2 separate regions of the Homo sapiens genome follow, and region 1 is linked to region 2. Evidence: fine-mapped expression QTL. Tissue or cell type: esophagus muscle. Region 2 holds a variant in brackets; the other region holds the start of a gene. All regions are shown on one strand. Distances are between the middles of the regions.

Region 1 (8,106 bases), 600 kb before region 2:
ATTGCTTATGGGAGTGAAACTAGAAATGGAATAGGAAACAACTACTTCTCATTATAAGCCCTTCTGTACTATCTGATTTTTTCAACATATGTAGGCATTACAATACTTCAATAAAATTAAAACCTATTTAGGTGTGAATAAAGACCTTTAGGTTGGAACCAAGTTTTATCAAGGCAAAATTAGTTAAGTTTTATCAAGGGGACATTTATTTCCAGCCCCTTTCCATGCCCTCTTCATAGCCTTCTCTCAATATTAGTTTTCTCCCAATATCAAAGGGATTCATTGTTCTCCTGCCTCTGGCTTTCTCCCACCTTCACTTAGGAATATTGCTTCTCCAGTTATTTTCTGCTCAACTTTTTTTTTTTGAGAGGAGTCTTGCCCTGTTGCCCAGGCTGGAGTACAGTGGCACAATCTCAGCTCACTGCGACCTCCTCCTCCTGGGTTTTAGTGATTCTCCTGCCTCAGCCTCCTGAGTAGCTGGGACTACAGACACCTGCCACCATGCCCAGCTAATGTTTGTATTTTTTGTAGACATGGGTTTCACCATGTTGGCCAGGCTTGTCTCAAACTCCTGACCTCAAGTGATTCACCCACCTGGGCCTCCCAAATTTCTGGGTTTACTAGGATTACAGGTGTGAGCCACTGTGTCCAGCCTATTCCCTTTTATTTTCATTTCCCAGTCCCCTTCTCTGCTAATCCTGAAATTTTCTTTTTTTTTTTTGAGATGGAGTTTCGCTCTGTTGCCCAGGCTGATCTTGGCTCACTGCAACCTCTGCCTCCTGGGATTTCAAGCAATTCTCCTGTCTCAGCCTCCTGAGTAGCTGGGATTACAGGCTCATGCCACCATGCCTGGTTAATTTTTGTATTTTTAGTAGAGACGGGGTTTCACTATGTTGGTCACACTGTTCTCGAACTCCTGATCTCGTGATTCGCTCACCTTGGCCTCCCAAAGAGCTGGGATTACAGGCATGAGCCACCGCGCCCGGCAAAAAAACTTTTTTTTAGAAAAATAATTAACTCAAAGGAATTAATCTATGTTAACACACTGTCAGGTGCTGATATATATATAGATTGGGGAAGATTTCGTGGCAGTGTGTGAAGTCTTCCAAAGCAGTTCAAATTGTATCACTTCATTCTTTTTTTTTTTTTTTTTTCAGACAGAGTTTTGCTCTTGTGGCCCAGGCTGGAGTGCAATGGCGTGATCTTGGCTCACCACAACTTCCGCCTCCGGGGTTCAAGCGATTCTCCTGCCTCAGCCTCCTGAGTAGCTGGGATTACAGGTATGCACTACCACTCCCAGCTAATTTTGTATTTTTATTAGAGATGGCGTTTCTCCATGTTGGTCAGGCTGGTCTCGAACTCCCAGCCTCAGGTGATCCGCCTGCCTTAGCTTCCCAAAGTGCTGGGATTACAGGCGTGAGCCACTGCGCCCGGCTTCATTGTTATTATGTAATGATTCAGCAGTTATTATCAACTGGGGTTGGAATCAGGATGGACCTTAAATAGTTGTTGAGATATTAATGTTTTTATTACAAGTTCTTGTTAACTTGATTTAAACAGGATTTAGCACATCCCAAGCATGTAGGTGGGTAATAAATATGACTTGTGCAATTATGAGGATGACATAAAACTACTATATACTTAAGGTAAGGATTGTTGACTTATTGACCACACACCCTTAATTTACATTCTTACAACACAAACGAAACTCATCAAATTATTTTGACAGTTTTATATGCTTAATCAACATGTTGGATATGGGATAAACAAACACGTAGCCTACAATTAACTGTCAACAATTGTTATTCCCATTATTATTAACTGATGTCCACCAATAACATTATATAACCCATACGACTTCTACTTCCAAGAAGTGCAGCATATTTCTTGTATTTTATTTATTCAATAAAAAAATTTTCCATGATAAAAAACATTACTGGCATTAACACTTAATCAAGAAGTTCATTACTTAATGCAAACAATGATTTTTTGGGGATTGAAAATAATTGTGCACTTTTCTGTAGATTAGGGTACAGTTTGCAATTATATTTTGCAATTTTCTTCCCAAAGGTAGGAAAGTTTAATAAAAACACAATGAAAACTACTGAATTAAAAATCACTAAAGGCAGGCTGGACTCAGTGGCTCACACCTGTAATCCCAGCACTTTGGGAGGCCAAGGCAGGTGGATCATTTGAGGTTAGGAGTTTCAGACAAGCCTGGCCAACGTGGTGAAACCCAGTCTCTACTAAAAAACCAACCAAACAAACAAACTAAAAAAGCTGTACGTTGTGGTGCATGCCTGTAATCTCAGCTACTGGGGAGGCTGAGGCAGGAGAATCGCTTGAACCTGGGTGAGGAGCCTGCAGTGAGCCGAGATGGCGCTACTGCACTCCAGCCTGGGCGACAGAGTGAGATTCCATTTCAAACAAACAAACCAAAAATCATTAAAGGCAGAAAATAGGTTCTATTGCCCCCCACACCCCATTCTATTTCTTCTGTGCTTCTAAATAGAGTCTAGACTTTACCATCATATCATTTTATCGAACTCACATATTTTGTTTTTGCTAATTAGTCTACAAGAGGCCTACTTTTATCTTTAACTTTTAAAAAACATTCACGGGCCAGGCGCCGTGGCTCACGCCTGTAATCCCAGCACTTTGGGAGGCCGAGGCAGGGGGATCACCTGAGGCCAGGAGTTGGAGACCAGCCTGGCCAACATGGCGAAAACCCGTCTCTACTAAACATACAAAAAAAAATTAGCGGGGCGTGCTGGTGAACGCCTGTAATCCCAGCTACTCAGGAGGCGGAGGCGGAAGAATTGCTTGAACCAGAGAGGCAGAGGTTGCAGTGAGCTGAGATTGAACCATTGCACTCTAGCCTAAGCAACAGAGCGAGACTCTGTCTCAAAATAATAATAATAATAATTCACTTTTGGAAACTGTTCCCTACTAGATTTCAAACAACTTGGGAATGAAATCCTATTTGAGTTCATCCATGTGTATTTCCAACAAGTTCAGTGTCTTACTTATAAATAGTACTTGAAGGAATGAATACAACTTTTTCTTTATGTAGTTATTTTACACTTGATTTAAAGGAACTTTAAAAAGACGCAGTTATACCTAGAGACAGACGCCCTCCAAAAATTGTCTCACCTTCATTATTTGTGATTACTAGTTAGAGCTAGCAGAAAAAACTCCCCAGCAAGTGAAATGTCAAACCACTACTAAAAGAAAGAAAAAGAAAGGAACAGTCTTTTCTATATTTAAGTCACTTGAGAGAAAAAAGAAGAGCTGGTATTTTTCGAGTAATAATGTTCGTATTTTGTGATGCAGATACTCAATTTTACATTCTAAAAATACTACTTTTATAGTAGGAAGCAGTGTACGTTTGAATCCTGGCTCTGCCGCTTGTTGCAAGAAGTTGGTCAAGCTATCGGACCTTGCTAAGCCTTCCCTGTTGTAACTGTAAAATGTAGTAACACCATTTACCTCTAGAATGGCTGTAAATCGAGTAAGGCTTATTTAATACAGCGTCTGGCATACACCAGGCATTCAGTATGGCGCCAGTCATTAACAATAGGTGGTTACTAACTGCGATTCACTCAAAACAATACAGATGCACACGGATGAGAGTTCACACTTTGAGTCTTATTCAAAGATTGGTTATTAGCCAGGCATTTTGATAGGTGCACTCAGTTTTATTTTCGTACCTCACGGTGTATAATTACGCAAGCTCAAAAGCTAATAATTGACAGCTCACTTTGCTTTACTCTGGGTTCTGCATTGACCTCAGAGAAGACACGGCCTAGACAAACAGGCAAGGCCCAACACTGACTCAAAAAAGATCCTTTATTTAACGCAGTGTTTTTAGTGCATGCTCTCGTTTGGCGAAAGAGAAGGTTTTACGTTCAGAATATTAAAAGGGACCCCGAGGACAAAGCAGGATCTCGGAAAATAAGATCACATCCCCAAACAACTAAAAGGACAACCGAGACAAGGTTGCAGACTCCCACGCCTCTGCCCGACTCCCGGGCTTGCGCGCGCGGCTGCAGCGCGACAGGGGCGGGGCCACGGCCACAAAGCAGCCCCCGAGACCACGTGGCCTCCGAGCAGCTCAGGGCGCCCTTGAAAGTTCTTGGATCTGCGGGTTATGGCCGGTCCCTTGCAGGGCGGTGGGGCCCGGGCCCTGGACCTACTCCGGGGCCTGCCGCGTGTGAGCCTGGCCAACTTAAAGCCGAATCCCGGCTCCAAGAAACCGGTAAATGGGTGGTGGCGGTGCGGGGAAGCGCTGGGGACCCGGGCGATGAAAGCGGCCCTTCTCTCCCTGTCATTAGGAGAACTGCCCTTTCTAGGAGAGTGTTGGGATGAAAATAGGATTGCCTCATGCCTGTTCTCCCTTACTGCCCAGAGGGGAATCTTTCCACGTGCACCCAGTTCTTTTTTTTTTTTTTTTTTTTTTTTCCGAGACGGAGGCTTGCTCTGTCGCCCAGAAGCAATTCTCCTGCCTCAGCCTCCCGATTAGCTGGGATTACAGGCGCCCGCCATCACGCCCGGCTAATTTTTGTATTTTTAGTAGAGACGTGGTTTCACCGTGTTGGCCAGGCTGGTTTTGAACTCCTGAGCTCGCGATCCGCCTGCCTCGGCCTCCCAAAGTGCTGGGATTACAGGCGTGAGCCACCGCCCCCGGCCGCACCCAGTTCTTAATAAGGTTATGTTTACAAGTGTAAAGATACCAGGCGGAGAAGCCGACTCGCTGAAACTACAAAGTCTTTGTGTCATTCAAAATTGGATTTAAAATGAAATGTTTTCCCGGTGTATCTTTATGTTCATTGGAAAGATCTGAATTGCAGCTGTCCCTTCTGCAGTTGACTAAATAGAGCTAGAAAAGCTGTTAGTTGACAATGTACTGTCATTTTAACAGTCAGTTCATTGCTTTCGTGAAATGACAGGAAATTAAGGAAAAGATTTTCTTCAACAGATCAGTTTTCAAATAAAATTACAGGTTTATGAATAACATTTGCATATTTACAATTAATTTCAGAATAAATTCTTGCCTATCATTTAAAATGTTGTGAATATTTAATTCTAGGATTTTTTTCGGTTTCAACCTATTATAAAAACCTTATCCCCATCCTAACCTTTACTTTTTGCTTTTGAAACACACTTGGACTTTGGTTACAAGAATTAGCTATGTCTTTAGAGGCAAAGATGCTAACAGAGTGTGTGGAGCTTTGAGCAACTAGGACATGCTTGACACAATAGTGTTAGCTAGCACTGGTGGGCTGGATGAATGAACAGCATAACAAAAAGTGAAGAGCTGAAATGCAGTTTTTAGAAATGCATCTGAAATTCATAAAATTCTTTTTTTTCCTTGCAGGAGAGAAGACCAAGAGGTCGGAGAAGAGGTAGAAAATGTGGCAGAGGCCATAAAGGAGAAAGGCAAAGAGGAACCCGGCCCCGCTTGGGCTTTGAGGGAGGCCAGACTCCATTTTACATCCGAATCCCAAAATACGGGTTTAACGAAGGACATAGGTAAGGTTGCTTTGCTTTTTAAAGTACAGGTCCCCAATTTCCATTAAAAAGCACCTAAAAATAGTTTGGTAGAAATTTTGGTGGAAATTGTAAATTCACTTTGAAGCAAACTTTTGCTACTGTTCCCCTGAACCATTTTTTGGTAATGAAATCTTGCCTGGATTATTAAAAGGAAAAGAGGCCCAGACACTGCACTTAGACCTGCAAAATGGAGATTCTAATGCCAGCTCTAATGGTTATTAAAAGAGTGAGCAATAATAGACAGTATACATAAAAATCTGGCCCACTGTAGTCACCTAATAAATGATAACTACCATTATTACTTTGAGCTCCATAGTAAGTTAAATTTTCCACAGATTTATTTGTGTAAATAAGTGAAGTAAATGCTTAGAGAGGGAAATAATTTTTAGTGGAACAAAGGTGGTACAGGTTTGTTTTCATTACCCAAAATCAAGCAGTATTACATGTTTGTGTTACACTCAAGAGGGTTTTGTTTAGTTAAATAAAATTGGTGGAGGAAAACACAAGACAAAGCTTTGAGTTGATTTCGAGAAGTTACAGGAAGATGAGAGTTTTCCAACTCTTACATTCTTGTTTTACAGTTTCAGACGCCAGTATAAGCCTTTGAGTCTCAATAGACTGCAGTATCTTATTGATTTGGGTCGTGTTGATCCTAGTCAACCTATTGACTTAACCCAGCTTGTCAATGGGAGAGGTGTGACCATCCAGCCACTTAAAAGGGATTATGGTGTCCAGCTGGTTGAGGAGGTAAGTCTTGATTAGATCTTTTGGTGTTATATAGGAGGATTTTTTTTTTAGACAGAGTCTTGCCCTGTTGCCTGAGCTGGAGTACAGTGGCGCAATCTCGGCTCCTGCAACCTCCACCTCACAAGTTCAAGTGATTCTCCTGCCTCAGCCTCCTGAATAGCTGGGATTACAGGCACCCACCACCATGCCCAGCTAATTTTATTTGTTTTTAGTAGAGACAGGGTTTCACTATGTTGGCCAGGCTGATCTTGAACTCCTGACCTTAAGTGATCTGCTCACCTCGGCCTCCCAAAGTGCTGGAATTACAGGTGTGAGCCACCATGCCTGGCCCGTAGGAGATATTTTTGATTTCCAGATAATCAGTACTCTACCCCCTTTATTTTTAGCCCATTTGTGTTTATAACTGTTATGTAGTGGTGATAGCTGTGGTTTTGGAAAGCTGTCATACTATCATGGCAGGGCTCTGTCCCTTGGTCCTGGAATGCTGCTCTTCTGCATATCTGTAAAGCTTGCCTTCTTTTTTTTTTGTTTTTGTTTTTGAGATGGAGTCTCGCTCTGTTGCCCAGGCTGGAGTGCAGTGGCACGATCTCGGCTCACTGCAACCTCTGCCTCCTGGGTTCAAGAAATTCTCCTGCCTCAGCCTCCTGAGTAGCTGGGACTATAGTCGTGCGCCACCACACCCGGCTAATTTTTTATATTTTTAGTAGAGATGGAGTTTCGCCATATTGGCCAAGCTGGTCTTGAACACCTGACCTCGTGATCCACCCACCTTGGCCTCCCAAAGTGCTGGGATTACAGGCGTGAGCCACCGCCCACGGCGCCCCCTTCTTTTGGTTCTCTGCTTGAATGTCAACATATCAGGAAGATCTTTTTTTTTTTTTTTTTTTTTTTTTTTTAAATAGAGATGGAGTCTCACTCTGTCTCCCAGGCTGGAGTACAATGGCGCGATCTCAGCTCACTGCCAACCTCTGCTGCCCAGGTTCAAGCTATTCTCGTGCCTCAGCCTCCTGAGTAGGTGGGACTACAGGTGCGTGCCACCACGTCTGGCTAATTTTTTTTATTTTTAGTAGAGGTGGGGTTTTGCTATGTTGGCCAGGCTGTTCTCGAACTCCTGACCTCAGGTGATCTGCCCGCCTCAGCTTCCCAAAGTGCTGGGATTACAGATGTGAGCCACCCCGCCTGGCCAGGAAGGTCTTTTTTGAGAGTCTTTTTAAAAGAGCACTTGCCCTGCTTCAGGAGTCACAGTGTTTCCTTTACTCTGCCCAAAGTATTTTTCTTTGAATATATATGAGCACTTGACATTTATTACCAAGTTATGCATTTGTTTTCATTGTCTTCCTCACTAGAATATAAGCTCCCTTGAGGGCAGGTGCTTTGATTCATTGCTTTACTTTCTTCTTTATTTTTTTTGAGACAGTATCTCACTCTGTGGCCCAGGCTGGAGTACAGTGGTGTCATCTCAGCTCACTGCAACCTCTTGTCTCCTGAGTTCAAGTGATTCTTCTGCCTTAGCTTCCCAAGTAGCTGGGATTACAGGCACCTGCCACCAGGCCCAGCTAATTTTCTGCTTTTTTTTTGTTTTTGGAGATGGAGTCTCACTCTGTCACCCAGGCTGGAGTGCAGTGGCACGATCTCGGCTCACTGCGATCTCCACCTCCCGGGTTCAAGCGATTCTCTTGTCTTAGCCTTCCAAGTAGCTGGGATTACAGGCATGTGCCACCATGCCAGGCTAATTTTGTATTTTTAGTAGAGACAGGGTTTCACCGTGTTGGTTAGGCTGGTCTTGAACTCCTGACCTCAGGTGAT
Region 2 (8,106 bases):
AGTCTGGGTATTGAGGTTTTTAGATGTTCCCCAAGTGATTCTAAAGTGCAACCAAGGTTGAGAATCCTGGATATAGCACTAGACTGCAAATCGGATGAGCTAGATTGGAGTCCTTGCTTCCCACATGTTAGTTATGTGACCTTGAATATGCCACTTAATTTCTCCAGGCCAGCACTATCTTTATGTATAGAATACAGGCAATAAGATCTTTTCTTTCTAAATTTTAAGGTATTGTGATGACAAAAAGAGAAAATGTGTATAAATTAAAAAAGGAATCCTATTGACATACGGTAAAACTCATAAACTGGTTAAGAACAGAAGCCTTGGAGTCAGAGACCAGGTTCAAATCACCCTCTCACTAGTTCTGTGACGTTAAATAGACTGATTATCCTTACTAATCCTCAGTATCCTACTTAGCACAAGGTGGGTAATAATACTCACTTAAAAGCCTTGCTGTGTAGTTTAAAGAATGCCTGGGAAGGTGTGTGCCGTGCGCTGCACCTGGTAGATGGGAAGTGCTCTACAGATGACAGATTACAGGCACCAAGGACTCCCTCTGCTGGTAAATGGCTCAGGATATGTTTTCTACTGGCCTCTGTCATTTACTGTGAAGTGTGAATAGCTTTAGATTATTACCTCAGTGGTGGAGATTGGGTCTACACATGGAAGCCCCCAGGAGTGTAGAGTCTTGTGGACTCCAGGCCAGCAGGATGGGCATTGCCTGGGATCTTGTTAAACACACAGAATTTGGGTTCCCATCCCAGACCTACTGCATCAGAATCTGCATTTTAACCAGATCCCCAGGTAATCTGTGTGTGCACTAAAGTTTGAGAAGCACTGGCCTAGGGGTTAATGGGCACTCATAAGACTGGGGTCTTATGATAGTTTGAGAATCCTAAATTAGAATGAATTGACACATTTATACACTCTCTTCTCTGTGGGTATTGATTCCCTTGTTCCTTTTCATTGGCATCATTTGCCACTTATAAGTTTGTCTTTCATTCTCTTTTCCTTCTTTCCAGTCCTGAAGTGAGCATATAGCCATTTTTGAGGACAATGTGGGATATTTTATTAAACTTGGGTTCAAATTTTACTTTTGGAACTTTCTGTGTATCCAGCTGTGTATCCTTAGACAAATGACTTAACCTGTTTGAATTTCTTCATCTTTTAAAGTAGACACTTAAAAGAGCCTTACCCTTCACAGGGTGACTGTGTGGATTGGAAGGGACAAGCATGTCAAGTCTTTCCCCCCTGGCTGGCACAGACCTGAGTGGCAGTTAGTTCTGCTCTTCTGCCTTAACAGACAGATAGGTATCAAGTCACATATGCTTGGTAACCAGACTGTTCAGATATCCCTTTATTGTTTTCACTTAAATTGTGGAGAAAGGAAGTTTACACTTAAGTGCTAATAGATTCTTGGGACAATGAAAGGATATTTAAAGTGTGGTTTACCTTTTAGAGACAAACTAGCCTCAAACTGGAGGATAACTTCCTGCTTCCTCTGGGAGGAAGAGCTAGCCTCTGAGTTCTGCCACTGAAACCAGCTCTGGGAATAAGGAAGTGGGGGGAAATTGGCTGTTGGGGATTAACATCCCTATTTTCCTTCTTCCCAGTTGAGAACAGCATAATTTCTCTTGACCTGGCATTGAAACAGGCCCAGGTCTGTTCTAGCTGCTGCAGTCTGTAGGGGAAAGTGGTGGTGGGCACTTAAAAAAAAGAATTCTAAGCATGGGAACTGGGTATGAAAAAGGAGTTCTGATAGTTTCTGGGTGATTTGACTGTCCCAGCTCTTTCAGGGTCTAGTCCATAGGTAGGCAATGTCTAGTCAGACATAATATGCAAGTGCCTGCCTCTTTATATCTCTAGTCTGCAGAGGTAGATTGGTGCCTGTAGTAGAAATAATAACAATGGCTATTATTGAAGCCATTAAGCAATAAGGTGGTATATTACATTTAAAAAAAATCCTCACAGTTCAGTGTCCTGGACATATTTTATTATACTAAAAATATCTGCTTATAAGTCTGTCTCCCTTGCTAGTCTGTATATTTCTCCAAGTTAGAGATTGTGCCGTCATTTTCATCTTCGCATACCTGTGGACTTGCACATTGTTTATTGTTTTAATATACATTTATTTAGTTGAACTGAAAATTTTATGCAGAAAGCATTATGTGACCATTCAACAGATAAAGAAATTGAAGATAAGAGAAGTAAAAAAAACATACTTTACTCAGTTTACAAAAACATATTTTACTCCGTTTGCAACAGCTAGGCTTCCAGTTGAGCTAAAAGTGATTCCCAAAGCCAGTTCTCCACAATGCTACCTGGATTAACAAATACTCTTGGGCCACATCAAAAACTAAATCAGCACCCATATTCTGTGGGCAGGTTTGCTTCTCTTCCTTGAACGTAGAACATCTATATCTTAACCTAGGTATCATCAAAGACAACAGGATTTTCAGAGTACAAGGAAGTTCTAGACTCACACTTTTCTTAAGCTTGTAGAAATCACCATATTTAGCTTTTCTTTGGCGAAAATTGTTTTTTTTTTTAATTTCTTAAAATACAAGCCCATCTTTCTGTCATTGGAACTCAGAAAGTGTTGGCTTCCAGTGAGAAATGTGTGGTAGTCAGAGAACTGAGCATATGTGTGTTCTTCATCCTGTTCTCTCATTTGACTCCTTCTGCATATTTTTAGTCAAGTCTCATGATATTTCTGTCTCATACTCTGTGTCTGTGAGGTTCACTGATTGTTTCTTGAGGGCATTTCATTTCTAGACTCTGAAAGAGTTCCTGAGAGCTTTTTAACTATTAGGAACAAAAAATGCAGTTAGTGTAAAAAGAAAGAATTTTTTAATGTGCTTAATTTAAAAAATTCTGATAATTTTTTTCTCCTTTGCATTTCATTCAGGTTGAAATAAGAAACACTGGAAACATATATAAGATAAGGATAGGACATGATGGAACCAGTGAGCAACCCGAGTGGAACTTGCAGAGGGTAATCATGTCACTTATTTTTTTCTTCATAGTTATTCTCTGATGAAAAGAAGCAAGCTGGCTATGTAAAGCAGTGAAAACGGTATTTTCCTAATTACAGATGCTCCTTGACTTACAGTGGGGTTATGCCTCTGTAAACTCATGGTAAATAAAAAATATCCTAAGTCAAAAATGAATTTAATGCCACTGACATAGCAGATAGTTCTCTACTTACTATGGTTTGACTTAAGATTTTTCGACTTATGATGGCGTGAAAGCGACATCTATTCAATAAAAGCTGTAACCCATCATGGGTCATACAGAGCTCTCTGACTTATGATGGGTTACTTCCCAATAAACCCATCATAACCTCAAGAAATTGTAAGTTGAACTGTGGTAAGTTGAGGACCATCCGTATTGTAAATAATGTGAACAAAATTTTTGTGGACATAACACTCTAAACAAATATGGTTCATTCTTGCGAAAGGTTTTTTTTAATAGCATATTTATGGTTATATTTGCAAAGATAATCTGTTCATAGAAATCTGAAGAATACGGTGAAGTGTAAGAACAAAATGAATTGTTATTCATTGATCATTAGATGACCACTCGGTGGTGCATTTTTTTTTCATATCTTTTTTCTATGAATCTCTTTCATGGTTCCTTGCAGACTCGTGTGCTTTCTGTCTCTCGGTATAGATATAGATACATACACACACACATAGCACATATATATGTGTAAATATCAATGTAAAATATAGCCATGTGCCACATAGGATGTTTTGATTAGCAATGGACTGCATATACAATGGTGGTCCCATAAGATTATAATGGAGCTGAAAAATTCTTACTGCCTAGTGATGTCACAGCTGTTGTAATGTCCTATTGTAATGAATTACTCATGTATTTGTGGTGATGCAGGTGTAAACAAACCTACTGTGCTGCCAGTTGTGTAGAAGAATAGCATATTCAATTATGTACAGTA[C/T]GTAATACTTGCTAATGTAAGCAACTGTTACTGGGATGTGTGTTTTATATATATGTAATTTAATATATATAAAAATATATTTTATATATATACATATAATGCCATATACTTTTAATCACTTAGAGTGTACTCATTCTACTTATTAACTTATTATACTTATATTAACTCATTCTACTTATTAACAAAAAGTTAACTGTAAAACAGCCTCAGGCAGCCTTTCAAGAAGTGTTCCAGAAGAAAGCATTGTTATCATAGGAGATGACAGCTTCATGCATGTTGTTCCCCTGAATATCTTCCAATGGGTCAAGATGTGGAGGTGTAAGGCAGTGATATGGGTGAACCTGACATTGTGCAGGCCTAGGCGAATGTGTATGTTCATGTCTTTATTTTTAACAAGAAAGCTTAAAAAGTAAAAAAAAAAAAAAAAAAAAAAAAAAAATTAAGTAGAGAGCCAGGCGCAGTGGCTCACACCTATAATCCTAGCACTTTGGGAGGCCAAGGTGGGTGGATCATGAGGTCAGGAGTTCAAGACCAGCCTGACCAACATAGTGAAATCTCATCTCTACTAAAAATACAAGAATTAGCTGGGCGTGGTGATATGCACCTGTAATCCCAGCTACTCAGGAGGCTGAGGCAGGAGAATTGCTTGAACCTGGGAGGTGGAGGTTACAGTGAGCCAAGATCACACCACTGCGTTCCAGCCTGGGCGACAAAGCGAGACTCTGTCTTAAAAAAAATAATAATAAAATAAGTAGAAAAAAAGCTTATGGGCCGGGTGCGGTGGATCATGCCTGTCATCTCAGCACTTTGGGAGGCCGAAGTGGAATGGATCACCTGAGGTCAGGAGTTGGAGACCAGCCTGGCTAACATGGTGAAACCCCATCTCTACTAAAATTAGCCAGGCGTGGTGGCAGGCGCCTGTAGTCCCAGCTAGTCGGGAGGCTGAGGCAGGAGAATCGCTTGAACCCCAGAGGCAGAGGTTGCAGTGAGCTGAGATTGCACCATTGCACTCCAGTCTGGGGGACAAGAGTGAGACTTTGTCTCAAAAAAAAAAAAAGCTTATGGAATAAGAATATAAAGAAAGAAAATATTTTTGTATGACTGTACAGTGTGTTTGTGTTTTAAGCTAAGTGTTATTACAAAAGAGTCAAAAAGTTTTTAAAAAATTAAATGTTTAATTTATTATGGAAAAAAGAAAAATATTTTTTATGAATTTAGTGTAGCCTAAGTATACATTGTTAATGAAGCCTACAGTAGTGTACAATAATGTCCTAGGCCTTCACATTCACTCACCACTTACTCACTGACTCACCCAGAGCAACTTCCATCCTGCAAACTCCATTCATGGCAAATGCCCTATACAAGTGTACCATTTTTAATCTTTCATGCTCTATTTTTAGTTTACCTTTTCTCTGTTTAATATGTTTAGATTTGTAAATACTTACCATTGTGTTACAATTTCCTGTAGTACAGTAACATGCTACACAGGTGTGTAGCCTGTGATCAATAAGCTATACCATATAGCCTAGGTATGTAGTAGGCTATTCCATCTAGGTTTGTGTAAGTGCACTCTATGATGTTTACACAATAATGAAATTGCCTAACAATGCATTTCTTGGAAAGTATCCCCATTGTTAAACAACACATGAATATATATAAAAACATATGTATAAATAAATACCTTAAATATGTACATATAAATACAAATGTGTGTGTATATATATATATATATATATATATATATATATATATATATATGTTTATATGTGCTTTGCCCTTTTAGTGAAATTGAATCATGCTATGTATGCACTTTGAGATCCTGGTTTTTTTATTTTTTCATTTTTATTTAATCATGGCAGTAATAACAATAATAATAATAATGAGTATTTGTTGAGTGCTTAACATATGCCACCTACCTTACAAATACCACTGTATTTCTGCCTAATAGCAGCTCTTTGATTTAGGTACCATTAATATCCTATTTTACATATGAGAAAACTGAGGCTCGATCAAGTTAAGTAATTTGCCTGAGGTTCCTCAGTAAATGGTCTTATTGTATGTTGGACTCCAGAGACTGAGATCTTAAGCACTATCATTGGGCCTTAAGTTTATTTTCAAAAATAGATGGTAATTAAACACTTAAAAGCCTTGAGATTTCTGTATGGAAGCACTAGATTATAGTGGAGTCAGATGAAATGGTTTGAATCATAGAACATCTTTGCTTTCTGGCTTTAAATACTATATCTGTCACTGGTTCCTTTACAGTACAAGATATGTTATTCCAAAATGCTTCAGGTTTAAAATTTGGAATACCACTGATAGAGTCTAGCAAAATGTTTCTTTCTTTTTAAGTGTTTCTTAATTTTATCTGTGATTTTTATTATTGTATCTTTGGTTGTATAATAAAAGTAATTGAGAAAAATGTTAATTTTGCTGAGGTGTTTATTGTAGTATTTCTTAGGACATGCCTATATAATGAAATGTTTTCTAATAGTTCAGGAACAGGTAAATATGTTCCAGTCAGTAAGTCAAGAAATATCTACTTAGCACCTAATACATGCCCTGCATTATGCTAGATGATATGGAGGATTTGAGGAAACCATTTGGTGACTTTAAAGTTTTCTATTTAGAAGCATTGAAAGAATTCTAAGATGAGAAAAGCAATGACCTTTTAAGAAGATGCAAAAACCATGGAACCTGCAAAGTGTAGTAAAATCAGAAGCTCTGTGCCTGTGAATTACTGGGAAAGGTGAGTCAGAACTAAAATTTTAGAAGAAACTTACCCATGAGTTAAGTGGGCCTGAAGTCAATAGCATGGATGTGCTTTCTCTGGGGCCTGTGAGTGAGAAAAGTGGTTGAGGGGTATAGCAACATCACTACGTAGTGATTCTTCAACTGGAGGAAAAAACATCCCCAGCAGAAGCTGTCCAAGGAAGGAGCACTCAGTCCTGGGAACCAAGGGAGGCATCATCCATTCCTCTGGTCAGTGGTAAAGGCTTCTGTGAAGAGTAAAGTGGGTAGAACACTAATTAATTGATTGAATTGAGCAGCTAGAAACTGTCATTACCAAAGCAATGTAAGAGAAGGGACTTTTCCTACACCTTACTTTACTTTTTATTGTGAAGTGATTTCAAATTTATTTTAAAAATTGCAAGAATGGAAGAAAGAACTCAAATTTCACTCAGATTCCCAGTTGTTAAGGTTGCACTCCATCTACTTTACCATTCCCTGTTAAAATATATATATATGTTTGTGTGTTTATATGTATGTCTTAATCGTTTGACAAATATTTACTGACATGAAGTCCATTGATTCTTTGGCTATGTAAATATCGTATTCACCATAAAATTTTTACCCACTAATTTTAGGATCCATTGATGATTTTTGCCTTAGTCAGTTATTACTGTGATGGTGGCCAAATGGTGATTTTTATATTCTATTGTTATTTCTCTATTTATTAATTGGCATTCTACTACAAGGTAGAACTTTTTCCTTCTCTCCATTTCAAAATTTCATTTATTTATTCATACCAGCGTGTACTTGCAGATTCTTACTTTATTTGATGGGTTAATCTTTATTAACATAATTTACTTTGATGCTGAAATCATCCTTCATTTTTTCCTGTAAGCCCCTATATTTTTTTCACATGTCACTGTCCGTTCTACGAGGACTTCTTTACTTTCTGATTTGAAAAGATGTTTCAGGCTTATCTAGTACTTTCTTTTCCCTAGCCCTGGAATTACCTATTTCTCAAGGAGCCCTAGTTTAATTTAGTGGAGAATGGTTTTTAGACACCAGTATTTACGTGAGCAATTCAAAGAAGTTACTTTCCCCACTAATGCCCATTCACCTCAGCCCTGAGGCCGCTTCCCATGATGTAAAAAGCCAGCCATGCTTCTGCTTTCCCAAGATGCTCCCCAATAAATGTTTCCAGTGTGGAAAACACTGAGTTTCCCACATGAGTTTTGGAAACACTGAGTTTTTCATTCCTCTCTTGGAAAGTCACAATGCAAATAAATATAGTAAAGGTTCTGGGATGCCCTGTGGTAGGGAAATCTGTTTAACAGCATTTCCAAAACTAAATTCACCATGGGGTCATATTTTTCAGGTAAAATCTATTAACATTCTATGAAAGGAATATTGTGCAT

What was found. PIP is the estimated chance that this variant, and not a neighbour inherited with it, causes the effect.
Region 1: MRPL15 starts here. The variant in region 2 is fine-mapped to the expression of MRPL15 in esophagus muscle (GTEx, PIP above 0.99).

What each region holds. Positions count from the first base shown.
Region 1 is chr8:54,131,134-54,139,239 of GRCh38, forward strand. MRPL15 (mitochondrial ribosomal protein L15) reads left to right here and starts at 4,108. Exons shown (of 5, transcript NM_014175.4): 1 at 4,108-4,258; 2 at 5,378-5,532; 3 at 6,135-6,300. The coding sequence starts at 4,151.
Region 2 is chr8:54,736,035-54,744,140 of GRCh38, forward strand. It overlaps a transcript of RP1 not described here. Among named protein-coding and RNA genes, the nearest start is that of RP1, 120 kb to the left of the region's middle. The variant C/T (reference allele first, on the strand shown) is at 3,959.